Regions from separate parts of the Homo sapiens genome. Here region 1 is linked to region 2. The links come from fine-mapping of genetic effects on gene expression. A gene starts in region 2. The other region holds a variant in brackets. All regions are shown on one strand. Distances are between the middles of the regions. Region 1 overlaps CTDSPL (CTD small phosphatase like). Region 2 holds the start of VILL (villin like).

Region 1 (12,153 bases), 63 kb before region 2:
GCATGAGGCAAATGGCTTGGTCTGATTTGCTCACTCAGGTCTAAGAGGATCTAATAATTCATCCCAGTTCTGGTTCTTCCCTGCTCTCAAACCACCTGTGAGACCTGCTTCCCCTGTACTCCTCAGCCCTATGGGCCAGGGTCCAGCCCATCCCAAGCCCTTTCTATCACCTGTAGGTTTGAACCCGGGTCTTTTGGGCCTCTGTGAGCCTCAATAGGTCAGCGCATTCATGACAAGGGAGAGAAAGAGGGGAGTCCAGAGAGGAAGAGCAGAGAAACAGTCCTCCCCTGCCTCTGCCCATGACAGTTTTCCTAGTACTTTCTTATGCATCGTTTTATCTTTTCCTCACATCTTCTGGCAGCGGGCAGCACAGGGCCATTTTCCCCCCAGGTAACAGAGTCTAGCTTCTGACTGGCTAAATGACTTGCCAGAGGAAAAGGATGTTGGAGACTGGATGGTGTCCCAGATCTTTCCACTGCCCCATCTAAAGAGCAGGCCTTGGCTGTGCCTGGCTGGCCTTCACAGCAGCGGCCCCTGTCTCCTCCACAGTCAGGACAAGGAGCCAAAGGATGTAAGGGACAAGTGTCTGCTCTGCCAGACTTGTTCGACCCATGTCATAGCCATCTTCAACTTTAGAGACTGTATTGCAGGTCGTCGGAGGTGTATCTGTCTCCTCCCCCTAGTTTGAGAGTTCCCTGAGGACAGGAACAGTTCCTTTTTCCTTATGTAACTGTTTTTTTCTCCCAGTACCTAGTTCAGCACCTGGAAGATGGTCGATATAAGAAACAACCCTAACTACCACACACACACACACACACACACACACACACACACACTCACACAAACACAAACAGTATATGCAGCTTTTGTGCTGATATTGAACTATTATGACTCTTTGAGGTCTATGAGGCTTCATCCCTGTGGTAAGGGGCCAGACCACCTGTAAGGAAGTGGTGTTCCCACTGCTGGTCATCCTGGGGCAAGGCTGGAGAACTGTTTCTTCTCTTGGTTCCTGTTGTCTTGGGCCTTGCCTCTGCAGAATAAGATGCACTTGAAGACTTTTTCCCAGGTCATGGGGAATGAAGACTTCTCCTTGCAGGGAGGAGGAATAACTGGGACAGCCCCCAAAGAGTACCCACATAGGGCCAGGCGCGGTGGCTCACGCCTCTCATCCCAGCACTTTGGGAGGCCGAGGCAGACAGATCACGAGGTCAGGAGTTCGAGACCAGCCTGGCCAACATGGTGAAACCCCATCTCTACTAAAAATACAAAAAGTAGCCAGGCATGGTAGTGCTGCATGCCTATAATCCCAGCTACTCAGGAGGCTGAGGCAGGAGAATCACTTGAACCTGGGAGGTGGAGGTTGCAGTGAGCCGAGATCACACCATTGCACTCCAGCCTGGGCAACAGAGCAAGACTCTGTCTCAAGGAAAAAAAAAAAGAGTACCCACACAGAGGAGCCTGAGGGCAGCCACCTCTAGCAGCCCCTATAAGTTACTCTCTGAGTTGGACTCCTGAATGCTGTCCTCAAACAGAAGGCTTGCAGTGCTGTGGAGTATGAAGGCAGGGCCTGTCCCAAGACTGAGCCTGTGTGACCTGGGAAGCAGTACGCTGAGGCCCCCAATTGAGGGACAGGAGTGACCAGTAAGATTCCTAATGGGAAGATAGATGTCAGGACAACAATTGGGCCAGGATCTCCTATTGCTCCACTCCATGGGGAGATTCTCCCTTCTCAGCTCAGAGTGTCTTTTTATTAAAGCAGCTAGCAGGCTTCCTTACATTAGATGCCAGATAAGTCTTTACTAAACAGACCACCATTCTTTTTCCTTGCAAATGTGGCTCTGTTGAGGTATGGATTAAATCAGCCCTTATGGGCTAGCATGGGCACTTTGTCACTCCTTATTACATGATATTTGTGGGAAATAGCATTCCAGGTTCCAAACAAGGGATTGGCAAGGGAAGCTTGGGAACACAGCTGAGTCACCAACAAGGGCCTTGCCACTCCTGGTCTGAAGCACTAAGTGTGTTTCTGTGTGAGGGCTACCTTCAAGGCTGCAGTCCAGCACAGGCTCAGAGCCCACAGGCTTGGCATTCTGGCCTGTGGATGTTTGACAAGCAGGGCAGTGTTTCCACTGGGGACAGTAAGGGGTGAGTTCACCAAGCTTCCTTCACTACCCTGTGTTACCTTATCTTGTGTAACATGACAAGAACCCAGTCTGAGCCATGTAGAGCTACCGAGGGGCTGTAAGCAGGAAGGGGGCCTAACCACATCTGCATTTCAGAAAAGATCGTTCTAGGGGAGGAGAAACCTGTAATCAGACTGTTGCAAAGGTTCTGTGGAGGGAGGGACAGTGGCGTGGGACAGGATGACTGCTGAGCATATGGGGAGAAGAGCCTGGGCCTGGCAGCTGGCTGGCTGTAGGAGATGCAGGAGGAAAAGCTGAGGGTGGTATCCACATTTCTGGTGTTCTTGGAGTGACATTGAAGTAGTCAGCTGGAGAGAGGAGCCTTGAGCTCTTCTTTTGGGAAACCCTGAAAATGCTGTGAAGACTTCCACAGAACTGCCATCCCAACTGATAGTTCAAATGCGTTCTTAAAATATCTGATCTTGGCAGAGTGGAACTCTGTGTAGGAAGAATCACATGGTACTTCTTATTCCATGTTCAGTCCCCAGCGTGTGGTGTCTATTTTGAAATATGTGGTTTATGCAATTTTATCAAGAGAGGTTTCTTAGGGTCATTTGTTAATATTTTTCCATTTATAAAGTTATTATATACCCTATAAAATTCCAGGTTAAGGAACAAATAACTTTAGAGCATTTCTTAAACATATCTTATAAAGCCGTATACTGTTGTGGGAATTCAAATTGTACAGCTAAAAACTATAGGCTGTCAGCAATGACATTTTAACGTGCATATTTCCATCTGAATGATTAACTGTCAGTTGATACAAAGAAGCTTTCTAAGTATTCCTTGCTTTTCTCTGTTTTTTTTTTTTAATGAAACAACACACTTATAAACCAATGCAAAATTCACACAGTATTAAATCACTCATTTAGGCTATCAGAGCCATGATAGCAGGAAGGGAACAACACAAACATACAATTGGATGACATCTTCACAATTAATCCCAAAACATCTGTGAGTATGCATGAGAGCTGATGCCTGTTTGAAGCAGAATGTTGCAAGCAGAAACTCTTCTATTTTACTCTTCTCATTAAAACAAAACGAAACAGAGAAGAGTTTCTATGTTTGAAAACTGGGAGTGAGGACAACAGGCCTCTTGCCGTATGGCATTCAACCCGGTCCAAGGTGAGAGTTTCTTCGTCCTAAAACTCTTGAGATAAGAATTCCGTTTATGATGATTCAAACTAAGGCTGTTAACATTATTCGGCCTAAAGAGAGAAGAGTATTGTGTGTCCTGTTTATATGATGAAAATAAATTTTTCTAGGGCTGCCATTTGCTTTTCTCTTCATTATGGTTACTGTCCCACAATTGGAAGACTTTTTTTTTATCCACGTGTACAAGGAAATCGAAGGGTTATGAAGTCCAGAGTTGATATTTGAGAAACTGAAAAACAATGATGTGTGATAAAAATGCCAAAAGCTTTTACTTTTACTGGGAGACTTCCTTGTTTTATAATTGCCAGCTTTTCCAACAATGGTGTACAAGAGGGCACCCTAAGAAATTATCTTTGTGAGGAACATGTAAAATGTCCTGAGGTCCATATTGATCTTCCTTCCTCCACAACGAGAAAATAACAAAAGTAAATATTTGGGGCCACGTTTATTTTGGTAAGATAAGTTCCAGTCTGGTTTCTAAAATTAGGGATTCTGTGGAATGCACGTGGTTTGGGGCATCCTGCCGGAGAACTTTGTCTCAGGGATATGTAGTTTCTTATGTGTTGTTGCTTGCTTGGAAATGTGCATCTAAACCTTCCCTCACGTCTGCTCATCTGTGCAGACCCAGTGCCGATGGTAGGAAAGCTCTACCCAGCTAATTTTGGTAGGCTCTCGCTGTCCTGCCCTCACCAGCATGACCTCTCCTTAGATGCTGCTCTGAGCCTGCTGTCTGTCCTTCATACACCACCAGACAGGTCTTCCAAGAGCACAGCTCTCATCCTGTCCCTGTTTCTCCTCAAAGCATTCACTGACCACCCCCTCCCTCAACTGCTTTCAGGCTAGAGGCCCTTCCCCACTCTGGTCTCACCTAGTGATACATCCTCTGCCACCAGCCAAACTGTCCTCCTTATTGCCTCCTGTAACTTTCCATTTCTCCCTCATAAACATCCTTCCCTGTCCCCTCTGTCCATCCTTCCTTGCTCAGTTGTAGTTGCCCCCATCCTCTCTCCCCACAACAGAAGTCTGCCCTGCCCAGGGAAGCCTTGTTTGACCCCTCTGAATATTTGCCTGCACCATCCATCACTGTCTCTTTCCCTCAATGTCTAGTGCAAAGGAGGTACTCAGGAGACATTTCTGTGTAGCCCTCCCTTTTGGCATCAGGTTTCCCCCTTCTAGAAGCTGTTCTTTTCCTGTAAAAGGCATACCCTCCAAGCATTGGTTCCTGGGCTTGTCTTTCTCCTCTACCCGGACTCATTGAGCTTTCTGTAGAATGTAGCAGTGGCAGCAGCTACCCTTCTCCTCCCGCTGGGGCTTGTTGGAGGCTGTGGGGCCTGCATTCACAGGGCCTTGCCTTCACCTATCATCTTGGGTAGAATAGGAACAAGCAGGGCTGTCTTCCTGGGCTTGCAACGTATGCCCTGCAGAGGCCTCAAACTTGTTTTAATACTCTGCTGTTACCATCCTGACCTTCTTACTTTTTGAACAAAGGCCCTGCATTTTGAACAAAGGGGCTCACAAAGTATATACCCAAACCTGGGAACAGAGCAGATAAGCAGAAGGGATGCTTGTTGGGGTACATGTGGAAGCCAGTGGAGGGTGTGTGACAGAGAATGGGAAAAGGAGGAATGGAAGAGATGCACTAGTTGTGAAGCACTTTTCTCGCACGGGTGACAGTTCTCCAGTACACACAGACACACACACACACACACACACACCACTCTTTAACCTCTTCCCTGCTTTGCTTTGATCCACAATACTTAACACTGTGTGACGTACTCTATATTTTACATGTTTATTTATTGTGTCTCTCTTCCCGCTGGAATCTAAGCTCAATAAGGGCAGGAATTTTTTAAGTTTTGTTCACTTATCTATTCCACAGTAGCTGACATATAGTAAATGCCAAATAAGCAAGTGTTGGATGAATTCACTACCCTTTAGGGGCTGGCATTCCTGCTACATGGGGTGATCTGTGGTAGCTGGGGAGAGGTCTGTGAGGCCATGGGAAAGTCACAGAGG[A/G]GATGGCAGGCCAGCTGACAAAGGGAAATTAAAAGGTACCACACAATTAAGTGGGGCAAATACTAGCAGAGCCCAAGTGAGCAGAGCAGCAGGAGCTAGTCAGAGATCTTCATCAAAGCCATGCCAGGGAACTGAGGGCAACAGCTAAGGTAGATGGTAAGATCGTAGGTTTCCAGCCCACATGAGAAACACCGTTATTTTTTTCATTCCTGCCCCAACCATGGGCCATGGGTCAGTGCTAGCAAATAAATTACTTATTAAGGAATTATTTTTCTTTTTGGCCTAGGTGATGTCAGTCCTTTGAAAAGGATTATTGAGGACTCTTGAGGCATTCTTGGAGGTGATTATTCCTTTATTCAGTTGTGAACCAGTTTTTGGTGTCAGTGGTTTGAGAGCAGACTGTAGATATGGTTACATTTTCATTGCAAAACTAATGTGGAATATTCTGGATGAACTGGCTTACTACTTTAACAAATCATTCTAATTAAACATCATGGGAAGAAGTTTGATACAATTATGGCAGATTTTAGAGGAATTGTATCACTGAATTGTGGCTTTTGTCCATAGATAAGTATAAGAAGCAAATGCATTTATTATCTGGAGGAGGCTTGCAGTGTTCAGTGTTAGGCAATAGTGATAGTGAGCCAGGAGTGAACAAGCTCCTCCACTTGGGTCACTCACAGTCCAGAGCGGGTGGGAAAGATATCCCACAGGACGATGATCATAATGACAGAAGGCAGAAAACTATAAGCTTTGCAGTCCAACAAACCTGAGTTCAAATTCCAGTTCTACTACTTAGTGCATCATTGGGCGAAGTCTGGGTACTTCACTTCTTGGTCACATCTTGGCCAGTAAAATGGGGGTAATGGTACAGGCTGAGTATCCCTAATCCAAAGTCCAATTACTCTAAAATCCAAATCTTTTTGAATGCTGATATGAAGCCACAAGTGGAAAATTCCACACCTGACCTCATGATGGGCATTTGTAACCATTGAAGAATAGAAAAAATAAAAATTAAAAATGGGCAAAGGGCTTGAATAGATATTTCTCCAAAGACATACAGGTGACCAACAGGTATATGAAAAGGTGCTCAAAGATGGTGGGTCAAAGTCAAAACTTTGTTTCATGCACAAAATCATTAAACATATTGTGTAAAATTACCTTCAGGCTATGTGTTTAAGGTATATATGAAATATAAATGAATTTTATGTTTAGATTTGGGTCCTATCCCCCAGATAACTCATTATGTATGTGCAAATATTCCAAAATCCGAAAAAATTTGAACACCAAAACACTTCTGGTCCCAAGCATTTTGGATAAGGGATCTTCAGGGTACCATGTGTGATGAAGATTGCATAAGGTTGGCATGTGAGCCACTGGCATGAGTACAGCAGGCATTCCGTCAGCAGTAATTGTGGCTTCTCCCAAGGCCAGTCTTTTTTTGTTTAATTGTGGTTAAAAGAAAAATATATGTGTGTGTGTGTGTGTGTGTGTGTGTGTGTGTGTGTGTGTGTATGTGTATATATATATATATATATATAAAAAATGAAATCTACCCTCTTAAGTTTTTAAGTGAACAGTACAGTCTTATCTATATTGTACATTGTTGTACAGCAAATCTCTAGAATTTTTTTATTTCATTGACTGAAACTCTAGACTCATTGAACAGTAACTCCTCATTTCCCCCTCCTCCCAGCCCTTGGCAGCCACCATTCTACTTTATGCTTCTGTGAGTTTGCCTGCATTAAATACCTCATGTAAGTGGAATCATACAGTATTTGTTCTGTGACTGGCTTATTTCTCTTTGTATAATATCCTTTATCTATGCTGTGGCACATGTCACAATTTCCTTCCTTTTTAAGGCTGAATAATATTCCTCCATCTATGCTGTGGCACGTGTCAAAATTTATTTCCTTTTTGAGGCTGAATAATATTCCATTGTATGCATGGACCACTTTTTCTTTATCCATTCATCCGTTAATGGACGTTTCAGTTGTTTATTGTAAATAGTGCTGCAGTGAACATGGAGTACAAATAGCTCTTCAGGATTCTGTTTTCAGTTATTTTGCATAAATACCTAGAAGTGGAATTGCTGGATTACATGGTAGTTCTACTTTTAACTTTTTGCAGAAACTCCATACTGTTTTCCACAGCAGCTATACCATTTTACATTTTCACTAACAATGCACAAGCATTTCAGTTCCTCCACATCCTAGGCAAAACTTATTTTTCTTTTTCTGTTTTTGATGGTGGCCAGCCTAATAGGTGTGAAGTGATATCCCATTGTGGTTTTGAATTGCATTTCCCTGATGGTCAGTGATGTCGTGCACCTTCTTATATACCTGTTGACCACTTGTATGTCTTTAGAGAAATATCTATGCCAGTCCTTTGCCCATGTTTTATTTTTTCTGTACTTCAGTGGTTGCAAATGACCGTTTTTTAATCAGGTTATTTGGGTTGTGGTTTGGTTTTTGTTGTCGTTCTGCATTGTAAGGGTTCTTTATATTTTTTTGGATACTCTTTTATTGGATATATTGTTTGCATATACTTTCTCCCATGCTTTAGGTTGCCTTTTCACTGTGCTGTTTCTTTTGCTGCATAGAAGCTATTTAGTTTGATGTAGTGCCACTTGTCTATTTTTGCCTTCATTACCTGTGGTTTTAGTGTCATATCCAAGAAATCATTGCTAAGACCAATGTTATGAAGTTTTTCCCCTGTGTTTTCTTCTGGGCTTTTTATAGTTTCAGGTCTTATGCTGAAGTCTTTAATCCATTTTGAGTTGACTTTTGTGTAGGGCATAAAATAAAGGTCCAACTTCATTCTTTTGCATGTGGATATCATTTTGCCAGCACCATGTCTTGAAAAGACTATCCTTTCCCCATTGTGCAGTCTTGGCATCCTTGTCAAAGATCATTTGACCGTACATGCATAGGTTTATTTCTGCACTCTCTATTCTGTTCCATTGGTCTATGTGTCTGTCTTTATGCCAGTACCATACTATTTTAATTACCATAGCTTTGTAATTTGTTTTGAAGTCAGGAAGTGTGAGGCCTCCAGCTTTGTTGTTCTTTATCATGATTGTTTTGGCTATTAAGGGTCTTTTGTGGCTCCATATGAATTTTAGGATTGTTTTTCCTGTTTCTGCAACAAAAACAAAAGCCGTTTGGATTTTGATAGGGATTGCATTGAATCTGTAGATTGCTTTGGGTAATACAGACATTTTTACAATATTAGGTCTTCCACTCCATGAACACAGATGTCTTTCCATTTATTAGATCTTCTTTAGTTTCTTCCAGCAATGTTTCGTAGTTTTCAGTGTACACATTTTTCACCCCCTTAGTTAAGTTTATTCCTAAGTATTTTATTCTTTTTAATGCTATTGTAAATGAGATTGTTTTCTTAATTTCCTTTTTGGTTTATTCATCGTCAGTGTATAGAAGCAGATCTGTCTTTTGCATGTTGATTTTTGTCTTGCAACTTGGCTGAATTCATTGATTAGTTCTAACAGCTTTTCTGTGGACTCTTTAGGGTTTCTACATATAAGATCATGTCGCTGTGATATTTTTACTTCTTCCTTTCTGATTTGTATGCCTTTTATATCTTTTTCCTGTCTAATTGCCCTGACTAGAATTTCCCATAATGTGTACAGTAGAAATGGCAAGAGTGGCATGGTGGCTCACGCCTGTAATCCCAGCACTTTGGGAGGCTGATGCAGGTGGATCACTTGAGGTCAGGAGTTCAAGACTAGCCTGACCAACATGATGAAACCCTGTCTCAACTAAAAATACAAAAATTAGCTGGGCATGGTGGTGCGTCCTGTAATCCCAGCTATTCAGGAGGCTGAGGCAGGAGAATAGCTTGAACCGGGAAGGTGGAGGTTGCAGTGAGCTGAGATCGCACCACTGCACTCCAGCCTGGGTGACAGAGTGAGACTCCGTCTCAAAAAAAAAGAAAAAAAAAAAAAGAAGAAGGGTATGGTGTTTACCTTCCATGTATTTGTGAATTTTCCAGTTTTCCTTCTGTAGATTTCTAGTTTCATTTCATGGTCAGAAAAGATACTTGGTATGATTTCAGTCTTTTAAAATTTTAATTTTTATTTTAAATTTATTTTTAGATACAGGGTTTCACTCTGTCACCCAGGCTGGAGTGCAGCAGTGTAATCATAGTTCACAGCACCCTCAGCCTCCCAGGCTCAGGCAGTCCTCATGCCTCCAGCCTCCCAACTAGCTGGGACTACAGGAGCACACCACCATGCCCAGCTAATTTTTTCTTTTCCTTTTTCTTTATTATTATGATTATTATTACTACTACTACTACTATTATTATTGAGATGAGGTCTTGCTGTGTTTCCCAGGCTTGGTCTCGAACTCTGGGCCTCAAGCAATCCTCTCACTTCAGCCTCCCAAAAAGTTGGGATTACAGGCATGAGCCACCACACTTAGATAATTAGTCTCTTCCTAAATTCTTAAAGACTTGTATTGTGACTTAACATGTGATCTATCCTGGAGAGTATTTTGCATATTTGAGAAGAATGCATATTCTACTGCTGTTGGATGGAATATTCTGTGTCTCTTAGGTCCATTTGGTCTATAGTGTTATTCAGGTCTTCTGTTTCCTTGTTGACCATTGTTGAAATCTACTATTATTGTGTTGCTGTCTATTTCTCTCTTCATTTCTATCGGTGCTTGCTTCATGTATTTGGGTGCTCTGATGTTATATCTTCCTGGTGAACATATAACTCCTTTTTATCATTATGTAATATCTTTGTTTGTCTCTTGTGACAGCTTTTTGACTTAAAGTCTTTTTGGTCTGATATAAGTATGGCTACTTTTGCTCTCTTTTTTTTCCGTTTACATGGAATATCTTTTTCCATCCTTTCACTTTCAGCCTATGTGTGTCTTTAAATCTAAAGTGAGTCTCTTTTAGTCAGTGTATAATTGGGTCTTGCTTTTCTCCCCCTCTATTCAGCTCCTCTTTGTCTTTTTTTTTTTTTTTCCTTCGAGACAAGGTTTCACTGTGTCATTCAGGCTGGAGTGCAGTGGTGCACTCACAGCTTATTGCAGCCTTGAACTCCTGGGCTCAAGCAATCCTCCCACCTCAGCCTTTCAGATAGCTGGGACTACAGGTGCACTCCACTTCAACTAGCCAACTTTTTTAGTTTTTTTAAAAGATGGGGTCTCACTGTGTTTCCCAGGCTGATCTCAAACTCCTGGCCTCAAGTGAGCCTCTTGCCTCAGCCTCAGCCTCCCAAAGCACTGGGATTATAGATGTGAGCCATCACACCCAGCCCCCTCTGTGTCTTCTCTGTGTCTTTTGATTGGGGAGTTTAATCCATTTGTGCTTAATTATGATAGGAAAGGACTTACTATTGCCATTTTGTTAACTGTTTTCTATTTATCTTACAGTTCTTTTGTTCTTCTTTCCTCTCTTTCTGCCTTCCTTTGTGGTTCATTAATTTTTTGTAGTGACATGCTTTGATTCCTTTCTCATTTTCTTTTATCTCCTATAGGTATTTTCTTTGTGGTTACTATAGTGCTTACATGAAACATTTTGTAGTAATAATAATCAATTTTCAGCTGATAAACAGGGCCAATCTTAATCTTGGAACAGTTTTTAGGTCTAAGCTATAACAATTTTTTTTTTTACTTTTTCATTTTAACTTTTATTTAACTGCTTTAAAAAAGAATTAAACTAGAATTAGTAAATGTGTGTTCCACAAGTTGATAGAACTAAGTTCCAATGGTATGTTTTAGGGCTTGATAAAGTGACTCTAACATTCATTTGTAAGTGTAAAGTGTTAGACTAGCCAAGAAATTTTTGGAAAAAAAAGTAAAAGGGAGACTAGTACTATTAAACATAAAACAATAAATCTACAGTAGCAAAGCTGTGTTTTACTGGCACAAGCAGGAGAATGGAATGGAAGAGAACAGGATAGATTTGAACAGGATAACCAAATCACTGTATGAGGATAAATTGTTCAGTAAATATTTGGATATTTGATTAATCTTTTGGAGGAAAAGGGCAGATTCATACATCCTACTGTATACCAGGACAAACCCCAAACAGTTAAATGTTTACTTTAAAAGATATTTACTAGAAGAGAATATAAGTGAATAGTATATCGTATTAGAATGAGAAGGAACCATTTTTAAAAAAGATTTTTAGATGTGACTTCCTAAAAGCTTAAAACTTCTGCAGATCCGTAACAACTATAAACAAAAGTAAAAGGCCTAAAACAAACTGAGACAACAGTTCCAACATACAGAACAGTCAAGGGATTATGTTGCTGATATATGACAAAGGAACTCTTATAAATCAAAGAAAAAATAGAAAAATGGGCAAAAAAAGTATATAAGCAGAGTTCTCAAAAGAAGAAATAGAAATGACCAAAATGCACAAAAGAGATGTAGAACTGGGATGGCAGTCAAAGAAATGCAAATTAAAACAACACGGAGTTGCTGTTTTTACCTTTCAGACTGGCAAAGGCCATTAAGTCTCTGTCTTGGCATCAGTGCTTCTATTGGCACAGCTTTAGTGGAACACCCCATGGGTGGGAGTGTACACTAGCACTGCCTTCCTAGGTGGCAGATTGTCCATAGGTATCAAGAGGCTTGACATTTTTTCAGACTTTGGTCCCAGCCATTACATGTCTAGAAATTTCTTCTAAGGGGATAATCTGACATGGACATAAAGATTATGTGCACTGGCTGGGCGCAGTGGCTCACGCCTGTAATCCCAGCATCTTGGGAGGCCGAGGCATGTGGATTAGTTGAGGTCAGGAGTTCGAGACCAGCCT
Region 2 (12,153 bases):
TCTGCAGACTGACACACCCTCCCCCACCCCGGGTAGTGGAGATGCTGGTGTCTGGGTAGTCATGGATTTCTGCTGGACATTTGAATGTGATAAACAATCCAGCATTACTTAGGAAATGCTACATGCGGAATGTGCACGTTTCCAGGGGCGAGTATTGTCAATCAAAAGGTTTGCAATGATTTCCTTCCTGCCAAAAATAAACATGTGAAACTGCACTCTTTTGTGGATTGACTACTTTTCTACCAGAAGCGCCTCTCCTCCCTCCCTTCCCCGCCTCCTGCGCAGCCTCATGCCATCACCTTGGGTCTCCTGGTATCCCCACTTCCGGGGAACAGGGGTGGATGGGAGTGGGGCTGCAGCACTCCAGGAGCCACAGACTGATTTTCTAGCTCGTCCATCCCACCCAAATTGCCTGTCACTCCAAGGGTGACTGCTGTTCAGCCCCCTGGCTTCCTCCCTCCGGAAGCAGTATGGCTCACTCTTCTCCCACAAAGATTCCAGCCCTCCCAGCAGGCTGGAAAATGCAGCCTGAGAGAACTGGGGCCTCCCATTCCATAAGAACCACAGGCATTATATGTGGTGCCTAAACCCATACCCATACCCATGGGCACAGTGGCCAAGATGATTGCCCGATGAAGCACGGCAAGGAGTCGGAAGAGGAGTCAGGATGTCCCAGGCAGTTTCTCGCAGTGAGACATTCTGTCGCCAGTGCCCTGAACCCAGTCCCTCTGTACATGCAGGTGAGAGAGGCAGCGACTCCTCTGCTAGAGACTCCTGGCAGGGACTTGGACATGGCTTCGCCACTCTCAGGACTCTTTCTCTTCATGATATCTGATTCGGATAGCACCAGTGTCAATTTCATAAGGTAAGTCTTATCCCCATTTTGTGGATGAGAAAACAGGCCAGCGAGACAAAGCTCTGCAGTCTGCTCTATCACAAGATACAGGATTCTACCAGGCATGTATATTCATCCCAAATAACTCAGGACACAGTATGTGTATCAGCCCAGGAGACCTAATATTTACCCAGAGACAAAACCCCAAATACCCCACAGCTAAGCCTGTGCCGTGCCCCTAGGTTCTTTGTCATCACAGTGGAGCAGCTGGCCAGCCAGAGAGAAGTCACTGCAGCTTCCTCCCCTGGTTCCAGACTCCTAGGCTGTGTCCTTTATTCTGCTCCCCAGCCCTCTCTGTCCCTCTCTCACCTTCTCTGGCATCAACCCTGTACCCCACTGCTTCACACCTTTGCATACAGGCAAACAGATAAAAGGCTGAGAGTTGTGGCAGTGCCTGAGGCTGAGGTATCCTCATGAGTGTCCACTGGTCCCCGAAATAGGTGGGAAGGACACACGGGGCATCAAGAGGGCACTTATTTGGGACTTGGACATGCTGAGATATGCCCTTCCGTGTTTTCTAGTTTGAGCACATATCATCTGTGTGTATTACAGGACCAAGGAATGGGCAGGAAGCCCAGGAGGGTGGGAAGGAGTGGCTGGGAAAAGCCAGCCTGGGAACAGTGGCACATCAGCTGACGAACATTCTGTTGAGCTTATGGATAAGGAGTGCATTGAGGGCTTGTGGCCGAGTTGTGGAGTAACCTGGATGCTTGCACGATAAATCTCCTGTGTCAGGGCTGGCTGTGGGTCAGCAGACTGTTCAAGGCCCAGAGCCATCAACTGGCATGGCCACCAGCCTGACCTCTGAGAACAGAGGCCATCGGGAGGAGGACATGGCCCCAGAGCTTTCCACCTCAAACCTCCATTACAGCTCCCTCTCCTGGTGCAGTGATTCTCAGCTCTGGCTGAAGCTGTACCCTAGAATTACCTGAGGGGTCTCAAACATACATCCCTCAAGTCCACCACAGACCATTTCCAATCTCTGCATATGGGGACCTGCGTCATGTTTTTAAGTGCCAAGATGACTGGAAAGGGCAGCCAGGGCTGAGACCCCCTGCTCTGACTGGCTACAGAGGAAAGGCAAGTCCTCCGAAACTGTTCCAGGCCTGATGCCCAGGTGTGGCAAAGGAGCTGTGGCCAGAGCTTTGGGGAAAATGACGTGTTGCTTTACCTGAAAGATCAGCCATATACATGTTCATTGCTAAAAAGTTGGAAAATCCAGAAAAGTACAGAGAAAAGCCCACCTGGGCACTGGGAGCCTTTCCCAAGGCAGGGGTGAGGAGGGAGGCCTGGTGAGACCCCTGCCTGGCTGACAGCACCTGCTTTCACACAGGTGGGGAGCAGAGTGGAGCCCCCCACTACACATTGGAAGGATCACACTGCCCACTAGGCACGGACCCCAGCCTTGCACCACCACCCTTCCAACAGGCCAGGGCTTTCCTGACCCAAGCTGGGTCCTAATGGGTGGGCGTGCTGCTGGGCAGGACCACAGTGGGCAAGGCAGTGACACCTCTTTGCAGGGGCCCAGGGTTGGTGTTTGGTCTGTCCTCTCACCCAGCTGTTCCCGTGGTGTCCTCGGGAGGAGTCACTTCCAGCCTATGCAAGCTCCAGTGACCATTGCCACAGCTCCTTCCACATCCTGCAGCCCAGGGCGGGACCACCAGATGTGGGGACACATGCGGGCCCATGGCTGCTCCCCTCCAGCGCAAGGAGCCAGGGCATCTCCAGGAGTGGGCTCCAGGACCTGAGTCAACAGTTCTCACTCCCCATCCCTGTCTGCCCTCAGAGAGGGACGCTCCTCACAGAGCCCGGACTCCACCACGAGAGGCAACATTCTGCACCTGCCTGGGAAAGACTGGAGAAGGCCTGGGGGATGAAGCCTGGGATAGGATGCCTGAGCCCAGAGAAACTGGGGCGGAGCCTGGACTTATCTTGGGGCCACTCCTTCACCTGGGTCAATATTGACATGGAGCGGGCTGGGCCTTGGAGATAAGCCAGGCAGGAACAAAGTAGGCCCCAAGCCCTGGAAACTTGATGAGTGAGGGGGTGGTAGATGAAGGGAGGCTGGGGCAGGAAGAGGGCAGGGCTTTGCTAGCAAGGCAAACTCTGCCCAGGGCCCTTTTGACTCCTGGCAGGCCCCCTTGAAGAGGGGTGGAGGTGGGGATGGGGATGGGGTGGTGGGACCCCTTTCCTGCTAGGGGGAGGAGGGAGGGGAAGGCTAGGCATCCCACCCTCCCATTCTTGCAGCACCCAGCTGCCTGTGAGCCTGCCCTGGGCCTCAGTTTCCCCTCTGTGTGCCTGGGGTGTGACAGCCATGAGCCGGAGGCTGTCCAGGCCAGACTCAAGGCAGTGCTGCTCATCTTGGCCCCAGGCCAGGCTCTAAGGCCAGACTGCCATCTATCCTGGGCCTGGGATCACAGGTTACAGAGTAGGTGGTTCTGGACAGGGCAGTTCTCTCCAGGTGACATCTTCTGGTTTGCAGAGACCCAGACAATTCCGAGGGTTGGGGCCTTGGAGAAGTTCTCATGCCCCCCACTAAGCTGCTGACACTGGATTGTGCCAGCTGGGGTATCTGGCCCACAACCAAAGTGGAAAGGGGTCACCCCCTCAGCTTCTCAGAGAAGGAGGACTGAGCCCAGTAAAGGGTCCAGATACACACACACACACACACACTGGGTCAGGCGCAGGCCACAGAAACATGTCAGCAAACGTTTTATTAAGCAACTGCAGTGCGCCAGGCACCGTTCTAGACACAGGTGGACAACAGCAAGGCCCTGCCCACAGTGACTCACAGTCCAGCTGGGACACAGACACTAACCAAAGATCCCACTTAGCAAAGAGACCAGCTTCTTGGAGCACCACGATGAGGAAAGTGGTGATGTCTGAGGAGGGAGACTGCTGTGGCTAAGGAGGGCGGGAAGGGCCCTCTGTGGGGCTGCCATTTTGGCTGGGACCTAAATGCAGTAAAGGAGCAGCTACGGGAATATAGAGAGTGGGGCTTCCAGGCAGAGAAGCCTGCAGTGCAAAGGTCTGCAGACAACGACCTGGGCGTCTTCAAGGGACACAAGGAATCATATTGCCAGAACACAGTAAGCCATGGGGAGAGTGATGGGAGAGGCAGCCGGGAACGGCCATTGAGAGTTTCATCCCAGTTTTAGTGGAAGCCACTGGAAGGTTTGGGGAGGGGGGTGATGTGAGCGGGTTTATGGTTAAATTCTGAGGTTGAATTTTCCCTCTAGTTAGTCAAAATCATAGAAAATAGAATGGTGGTTGCAAGGGGCTGGGGGCAATGGGGAGTCTATGTTTAATGGGTGCAGAGTTGCAGAGTTTCCGTTTTGTAAGATGAAAGAGTTCTGGAAATGGTGGCAGTGGTTGCACAACAATATGAGTGTCCTTAACACCACAGAACCGTATACTTAAAAGTGGATACAGGCCGGGCGTGGTGGCTTACGCCTGTAATCCCAACACTTTGGGAGGCTGAGGCCGGTGGATCGCTGGAGGTCAGGAGTTCGCAACCAGCCTGACCAACATAGTGAAACCCCGTCTCTACCAAAAATACAAAATTAGCCGGGTGTGGTGGTGCATGCCTGTAATCCCAGCTACTCAGGGGACTGAGGCAGGAGAATCACTTGAACCCGGGAGGCGGAGGCTGCAGTGAGCCAAGATCATGCCATTGCACTCCAGCCTCGGCAACAAGAGCAAAACTCTGTCTCAAATAAATACATAAATAAAAAGGGGATACAATGGTAAATTTTAAGTATATTTTACTACAATTTTTTAAATCTTGTGAAAAAAAGATTTTTTATATTTTACCACAATTTTTTTAAATCTTAGGAAAAAAGATCCCTCTGGCTACTGTGGTAGGATGGTCGTAGCGGCCAGGCAGACCCAGAGACACAGAGGGAGGCTGGCTCCGGAGCAGGCAGGAGGCGTGAGAGGGAGGGCCAGGCCCAGGATCCACCATGAACCAGCTGCCGACGGGCCAGTGGCTTGCGGGAGAGAGAAATCAGGGCAACTCCAGGTTTGGGGCCTAAGCACCCTCTGGATGTTCACACTGAACGTGTTCCTGGGGCTCAGAGAGGGTAGATCTGGGAGGGGCCTGAGGCGATGTTAAATGTGAGACCAAACGTGCTGGGAGAGATGTGACAGACGGAAGATGGAGACTTAGGCCGGGGCAAGGTTCGGGGGAGTTGGGTCAGGGAGACACTGGCGTTTCCATGCTATTTGCAGCCTTCAGACTGGAACTGGGAAGGAAACTGGAAAACAAACAGGAGTGAAGGCCCAAGCTCTGCTCCTGCTGCCATTTAGAGGCCTGAAGGAGACAGGTGGAGTGAGAGGGGAAGGAACAATGGTGACTGAACTGACTGCCGCTTGGTTGACAGCGGGCATTGGTGACTTAGGAAAGAGCCATTGCCAGGGAATTCAAGAACAAACAGAGCGGGTGGGCTGAGGGGAGATGGGGGAAGAGTCGGTGGGAAGAAGTGAGGACACAGAGTCTTCCTGGGCACAGAGACAAAAAGGGACAGGGAAACGGGTATGCACAGGTACAGTGGACACACTGCCACTGTCACAGACAGGGTCCCTGTCCCAAGTGGGGATCAGACAGACATGCCAGGATACAGGCACACACATGAGGTCGGACAGGCAATGGCACACATGGGGACGAGCCAAATGCCTGTGACACAGGCATCCCTTCACACACAGGGACCCTGCATTGTGTCTGTTAAACACAGTCACACACTAGCTGTAGGTCTTGCTGGACACAGACTGCCCCCGAGTCCCCAAGTCCCCAGACCCCTGTAACAGAGACCTTTGTGGGGTGAAGACTGAACACAGGGAGAGGGTCTTGGGCAGTGGGCAGGCTTTAGCAGCGTGGCTTTGATGGGATGGCCCACGCTGGCTGGGCCTTGGCTGGGACTGAGGCCCTAAGCCGCCAAGAGGAGGTTGTGCCCCTGGAGTTTCTGGAAGGCTCTGTTTGCAGCCCCTCCACCCCACAGTGAGAGAGAGAGAGTGGCAGTGGAGTGGCAGCTGAGGTGAGGGAGAGGTGTCTTCGCTGCAAGAGCTGGACTGGCCTCTCCCATGATGGGTATCAGGGTTCCCTGAGGAGGGCTGTGCCAGGCAGTGAGCTCACATTTGGGTAGGGACAGCAGAAATATCTAGAGGGAGCCCTGACCACCTTCCCCTCCTGAAGTGAGCTGGGTCTCACAGAGCCTGACCCCACAGCCCCCAGCCTTGGTCCTACTTCCTCCTAAAGTTTGCTGGAGTGGCCTGGCCCTCTTGGTCCAGGCGGAGCCCACCACTCCGGGTGAGGGATCAGGGGCCCATCTAGTACTCCAGAGAAGGAAATCCCAGTATCTTCCACACCCCACCTCTTAGCCCAGTCCAGGCCTCCATCCCCTGCTCTCTCTGGCCACTGGTACCCAGGCAGTGAGACCTGGGAGACTTAACCATAGCCCTGGGGAGGGCGCTGGTCCCGACGGCTTGCTCGATATTTGTTGACTGGCTGACTAAGTGAATGCCTAGCCCGCTGAGCACTGTGTGGTGGGGTGTGTCCTGCAGGGCAGGAGCTAGGATTGAGTTACAGTGGTGGGGACCAGGAGTAGGGAGGCAGAGACTGGCCCCGTGCCAGGCCTAGCACTGCCCACAGGCAGGGCGAAGGCGCGGGAGCAGTTTCCAGCAGGTAGGCCTGGGCAGAGAGTTGGGGGGCGGGGGTTTCCAGGGAACCAGTGGGGCAGAGTGGGCTATTCAAGTCAAGGGCATAGAGCATAGGGTCCCAGGGCTCAGGGCCACAGAGCCTCCGCGGCAGAATTGGGAGGCGGCAGCAGCCCAGCAGGTGAAAACACTGATGGGGCAGGGCAGCTGTGGCCGGCAGCCCAAGGGGAAGAAAGTGGCAGATTTTGTAGATGGGCAGGGAAGTCCGTGGCCCACAAATTCAGTGTGCCTGCCCCCAACCCTGGCCCCATCCTCCTTTCCCCTCACTCTAGAGGGCGGCACCACTCCCTGCTCCATGGAAACTGAGCAAGGTAATCTCGGGCTCCCTTCAAAGGTACCCACAAAAGAAGGAAGGGCTCCTGTAGGGAGAGAAAGAGGCACTGGAGGAGGGAGAAAGCGAGGAGAGAGGAGGCACCCAGGGACACGAGGGGCAGGGGGAGAGAAGAGGGGGTGTGTGAAGCGGGTAGGGAGTGCCCCGGGAAAGAGAGGGGAGCCTGGGGAAGAGAAGGAAAGACCTGGGGAGGAGGGTGGGGAGGGAGAGAGGGAGGGGTGTAGGGGAAGACAGGGAACCAGGAAAGGAGGAGGTGCCTGGGGAGGAAAAATGGGAGAAAAAGGGAAGGATCCCAGGGGAGAGGGGAAATCAGAGGGGAGAAAGAAGAACCAGGGGGAGGCAGGGGCACCCAGTGGGGACAGAGGGAAACCCTGGAAAAGCGGAGGCGTGGGGCATGGGGAGAGAAAGGGAAACCAGGGAAGGAATTGGGCATCCGGAAGAGAAAGGGGCCCTGAGTGGAGGAAGTGCACCCCCAGGGAAGAGAAGGAGGGCTTCTAGGAGAAGGGAGAGGACCAGGGATAGGAGGGTTCCCACTTGGGAAGGTGGTGAAAGGGAGTTCCCCAGAGGAAAGAGGGCAGGAGGGTTTGGGAGGCTGGAGGGGGCACTGTGGGGGGTTCCCCTGAGGAAAGAGGGCAGGAGGGCTTGGGAGGCTGGAGGTGGCACTGTGGGGAGGGAGGAGGCCCCCAATCTTTGAGCACCCATTCCTCCCTGGAGTCCAGGTGAAAGAGAATGAACACAGGTGCCATGCGAGTGCGACCTCAGCCCTGGCAGCTGAGGGCTTGGCTCTACGGGCTGGGGCTGGATATCAGACGGGCTCCCGGACCCCTGGGGGCGATGCTGCCTCTCCCAGTGACACCAGCCGAGTCCCAACTTTTTGGCTGCCAGTTTGACTTTCCAGTCCCCCATGTGCCCTGGTTGACACTGTTCTGAGGCCATCCAGTAGTCTTTCTGGCACTCTGTCACCATGTTGTACTCTTCCATGAGCTACAGCTCACAGTTTCTGTCTGCACCTCTGGTCACTGCCTGCCTGGGCCTCTGGTAACTGTCACTGGTCACTATTTCTGCCTATTACTCAGTGTCCTTCTACGGGGCCACCACTGGTGGACATCCTGCTTGTCACCCAATGTCCTCACGTTTTCTGTTGCTTGAGATCACCTTTTCATGGCCACTATGTCTGCCTGTCACTCATGTCATTGTCACACCAACAGGCCATCAACTGTGGCAACAGTTCTTGGGGCAATTAGGGTGCACGGACGGCTCCCTTCTCTATTCATTTTCACTCAGTCCAGTCGCAGGGCAGCACACTTCACTCATTCAACAAGTACTTACTGAGTACCTGCTGGGGGCCGGGCAGCTGGGATCCCACAGTAAACAACAAGACAAACCCCTGCCTTCAGGAATCTGCTGCTCTGGTGAGGGAGACCATAGCCAACAACCATCCTATGGTTTCCATAGGGTGTCGGGAGGAGCTGTGAGCTGTGACGGACCCAGCTCTAACCCCCTAGAAGGACAGCCCACTCTGCCCCTGCTCCCCTGCCCCACAGCCTCCTCCGCTCCCACATTTCTTTGGCTACATGTTGGGTGTTGCCACAGTGTACTGTGAACTCACCAGGGCCAAACCAGGGGCCCTGACAAAGGTGTAAGGAATGTGAGCCACTCTATGACACCTATTGTGCCACACCTGATTCTGTAACTCTGTCCCCTCACCTTGTTCTGCCTGGAGCCAAGGGTGTTCCTGCTATTGATAAGACACAGTGGGAGTGGAGGGGGAGGAGGGAAGGACTAACACACCAGGGTCACCCTGAGTGAGAGATTCAGAAAGAAGTGACTTTTGGACCAAACCTCACACACAGGTTTCTGAAGGAGTGGTGCAGGGAAGCCTCAGGTAATTGAATATGAAGTGCCAAGACATAACAAAATCGACAGAAGTGAGGGTCCCTTCCTTCCCCCAGGTACTTCTCATTCCATGTCACTGTCATTCACTGCCCTCTCATTCTCTCCCTCTCTGCACGCGCAGAACCACAGAGCACAGACTCGAGCAAGCTAAATCGCTATTTGCAGAGCCTGTGGCTGTTTGCAGAGCCTGTGTTTATACAGAGTTCAGCTCTGTTTCAAGAATTTGTCAGCTGAAGCGGGAAGATCACTTGAACCCAGAAGGTGGAGGTTGCAGTGAAGTGTGTTCGAATCATGCACTGCAGGCTAGGGTGGCAGAGCAAGACCCTGTCTCGAAAAAACTGGAAAAAAAAATTGTCAAGTGTTTATGCCTAATCTGCCCAACCCACTCATATCAGCTGAGCCTGTCACTTGCTGCAGAATCTGAGTCTTCATAGTCTGTGTGCTGACATTTGTGTGTTTACAGAGCCCTCCTAATAAAAGTCATGTTCTATAATGAAGTTGTACAGGTAGCCAGGTGTCGGTCTCCAGCCTGAGAACTCTGGCTGTTGTTCCTTGTGTCGTCCCATATTCCTGCCTGGCCTGCGATGGACATCAGCAAGGGCCTCCCAGGCATGCAGGGAGGCCTCCACATATGGATCTCTGAGGTGAGAGGCACGACCAAATAGGAGAGTTGGTGACATGGAAGAGCGTGGGGTTTTCCACACTAGGCTTCTCCCGCCCCCAACTCAGAGCGTCCTCTTCCACCCCACCCCAGCGGGTGTCATGGGTAGAGGCCTCCTGAGTTGTTACAGGGAACTCTCCTCTCCCAGAACCGGAAGATGGTGCCGGTACCCGAGGGGGCTTACGGGAACTTTTTTGAGGAACACTGCTATGTCATCCTCCACGTGAGTCGCTTGGGGAAGTCTGCCTGAGAGGGGTGGCATGGCCCGGCACTGGGGAGACTGAGGCACAGGCATAAACTCTGCCCTGGGAAGCGGCAAGTTGAGAGCCGGAGAATCACATCCCACAAGGGGGCGGTTACCGTTGAGGCTTCTTAGTCCTTCCCTCCCACTTCCTGATCTCCGCGGAAGCCCCTGCCTAGCGTCTCCCCATGGCCCTTGGTACATCCTCCCCTTCTCCACCCGCACCTCCGTCTTCCCCGCAACACATATACACAAACACCCGGACCCTAGGTCCCCCAGAGCCCGAAGGCCACGCAGGGGGCGTCCAGCGACCTGCACTACTGGGTCGGGAAGCAGGCGGGTGCGGAAGCGCAGGGCGCTGCGGAGGCCTTCCAGCAGCGCCTACAGGACGAGCTGGGGGGCCAGACCGTGCTGCACCGCGAGGCGCAGGGCCACGAGTCCGACTGCTTCTGCAGCTACTTCCGCCCGGGAATCATGTGAGTGCGGGGGCGACCGGGGCAGGAGGGAGCCGTGGAGGCGGTGCCTTGGCTGGGGCAGTCTTGGGATGGCCATCGTCCACATCCCTGAATGGGGCAAGCCGGGAGGGGTTGGGTAACACCTTTATTGAGATACAACTCATACGCCATACGATTCACCCATTTAAAGTACATATACATGTCAGTGATTTTTAACAGTTGTGTGCAACCATCACCACAATTTTAGAACATTTTCATCACCCTAAAAAGAAGCCCCATACCCCTTTGCCACCACTCCCCATTTCCCTCCAACACCCCCATCCCCTGCCCTAGGCAACCACTCATCTGCTTTGTCTATACATTTGCCTCTTCCGGGCATGTCATAGAAATAGAATCATTCAACAAATGGTCTTCCCTGACGGGATCTTTTTGTTTTAACACACTGTTTTCATGGTTTATCCATGTTGTAGCATGTGTTATTACTTCTTTTTATTACCAAGTAATATTGCATTTTATGAATATACTACATTTTATTTATCCATTCATCACTTAATAGACATTTGAGTTGTTTCCACTTTTTGGCTGCTATGAATCTGTTTTTATGAACATTTGTATACAAGTTTTTGTGTGGACAAATGTTTTCATTTCCCTTGGTATATACCTAGGAGCAGACACCAATGTTGTTTTGAGTTTGCTTTTATGTTACTGTGCTGGTAGGAATATATCTTTCGCTGTAAATTGCTTCACAGGTGTTTTAAATTAACACTAGCAATATATTTGGAAATATAGGAAATTGCTATTTGATCATTTCCATTTCATACAGTTGAACCTATATATGCATATAGCATATACATGAACACATGCACACAAACATATGCGCAGATGCAGAAACACACACCACCCTCATGTATGTCCACCTATAGATGGACATGTGTGAATATCCATGTTCACCTACACACATATATGCTGTTGCCCACCTTCATGCACTCACCATCTAGACTTACAGGGATAAACAAATACACAGTGTGCCCCCAAATGTATGTACATGTACACATATATGCATGTGTCCACATGACTACGCATGGAAGTGCACTACACATGGAAATGAATGCACACTCATGCCCTATGTGTGCACCCATGTACTTATACATACATGTGTTCACACAGACTCCAGTGCATGTATGAAGCAGGCACATACGTGCACGTGCTCACATCTGCAGTCATTCATGCACATGGCAGTCTGTGTTCTTATATACACAGAATGTATATACCCTCCTGCTATTCCCACCTCAGCTACAGGAAGGGAGGCCTAGCATCTGACCTCAAGCATGTGGAGACCAACTTGTTCAACATCCAGCGACTGCTGCACATCAAAGGGAGGAAGCACGTGTCTGCCACTGAGGTGAGGCTGCCAGGGGAGCCTCTTGACCTCTGAACTCGGCTCAGACTGGGTGTACTGAGGTATAAGGAGGTTGGAAATTGGCTGGGGTTGTGGGGAACAAGGAGCTGTCAGCATTCCCAGATGGTCTTGAATGAGGAGAACAGAGAGGACACCAGGCTTCTAGCCCCACTTCTGCCACTGCTCCCCGGACCTTTTGTTTATGCGTCTATCTCAGGGACATATTGAGAACATGGGCACAGCTACTTGGGAGGCTGAGGCAGGAGGATCGCCTGAGCCCAGGAGTGATTCATGATGACACCACTGTACTCCAGCAGCTTGGGTGACAGAGAAAGACCCTGTCTCTGAAACAAAAAAAGAACTTGGGCAGATGGGGCAGATGATATGGCGCCTGTGAATGGTCCTTGTTAGCAGCACAGTGAGAGGTGGTGCATAACCTCGCACTCTCTCACACACATTGTCATTGTCACCTATATGCACACACACTGTCTCCCACTGTTATCCCCGGGTGCTCCTCTGGTCCATAGAGTGCCCTTGTGCAAATCAGAACAGTGCCCCTTTCT

What was found. PIP is the estimated chance that this variant, and not a neighbour inherited with it, causes the effect.
Region 1: its variant is fine-mapped to the expression of VILL in lymphoblastoid cells (GTEx, PIP above 0.99).

Annotation. Positions count from the first base shown.
Region 1 is chr3:37,920,809-37,932,961 of GRCh38, forward strand. The region is part of intron 1 of CTDSPL (CTD small phosphatase like); the gene reads left to right. Among named protein-coding and RNA genes, the nearest start is that of MIR26A1, 43 kb to the right of the region's middle. The variant A/G (reference allele first, on the strand shown) is at 5,358.
Region 2 is chr3:37,984,255-37,996,407 of GRCh38, forward strand. It overlaps VILL (villin like), which reads left to right and starts at 6,532. Exons shown (of 20, transcript NM_015873.4): 1 at 6,532-6,575; 2 at 9,333-9,478; 3 at 9,644-9,718; 4 at 10,007-10,212; 5 at 11,485-11,593. The coding sequence starts at 9,419. It overlaps CTDSPL (CTD small phosphatase like), which reads left to right. Exons shown (of 8, transcript NM_001008392.2): 8 at 1-215. RefSeq lists silencers at 2,732-2,909, 9,545-9,994 and enhancers at 8,544-8,838, 9,704-9,998, 10,030-10,647.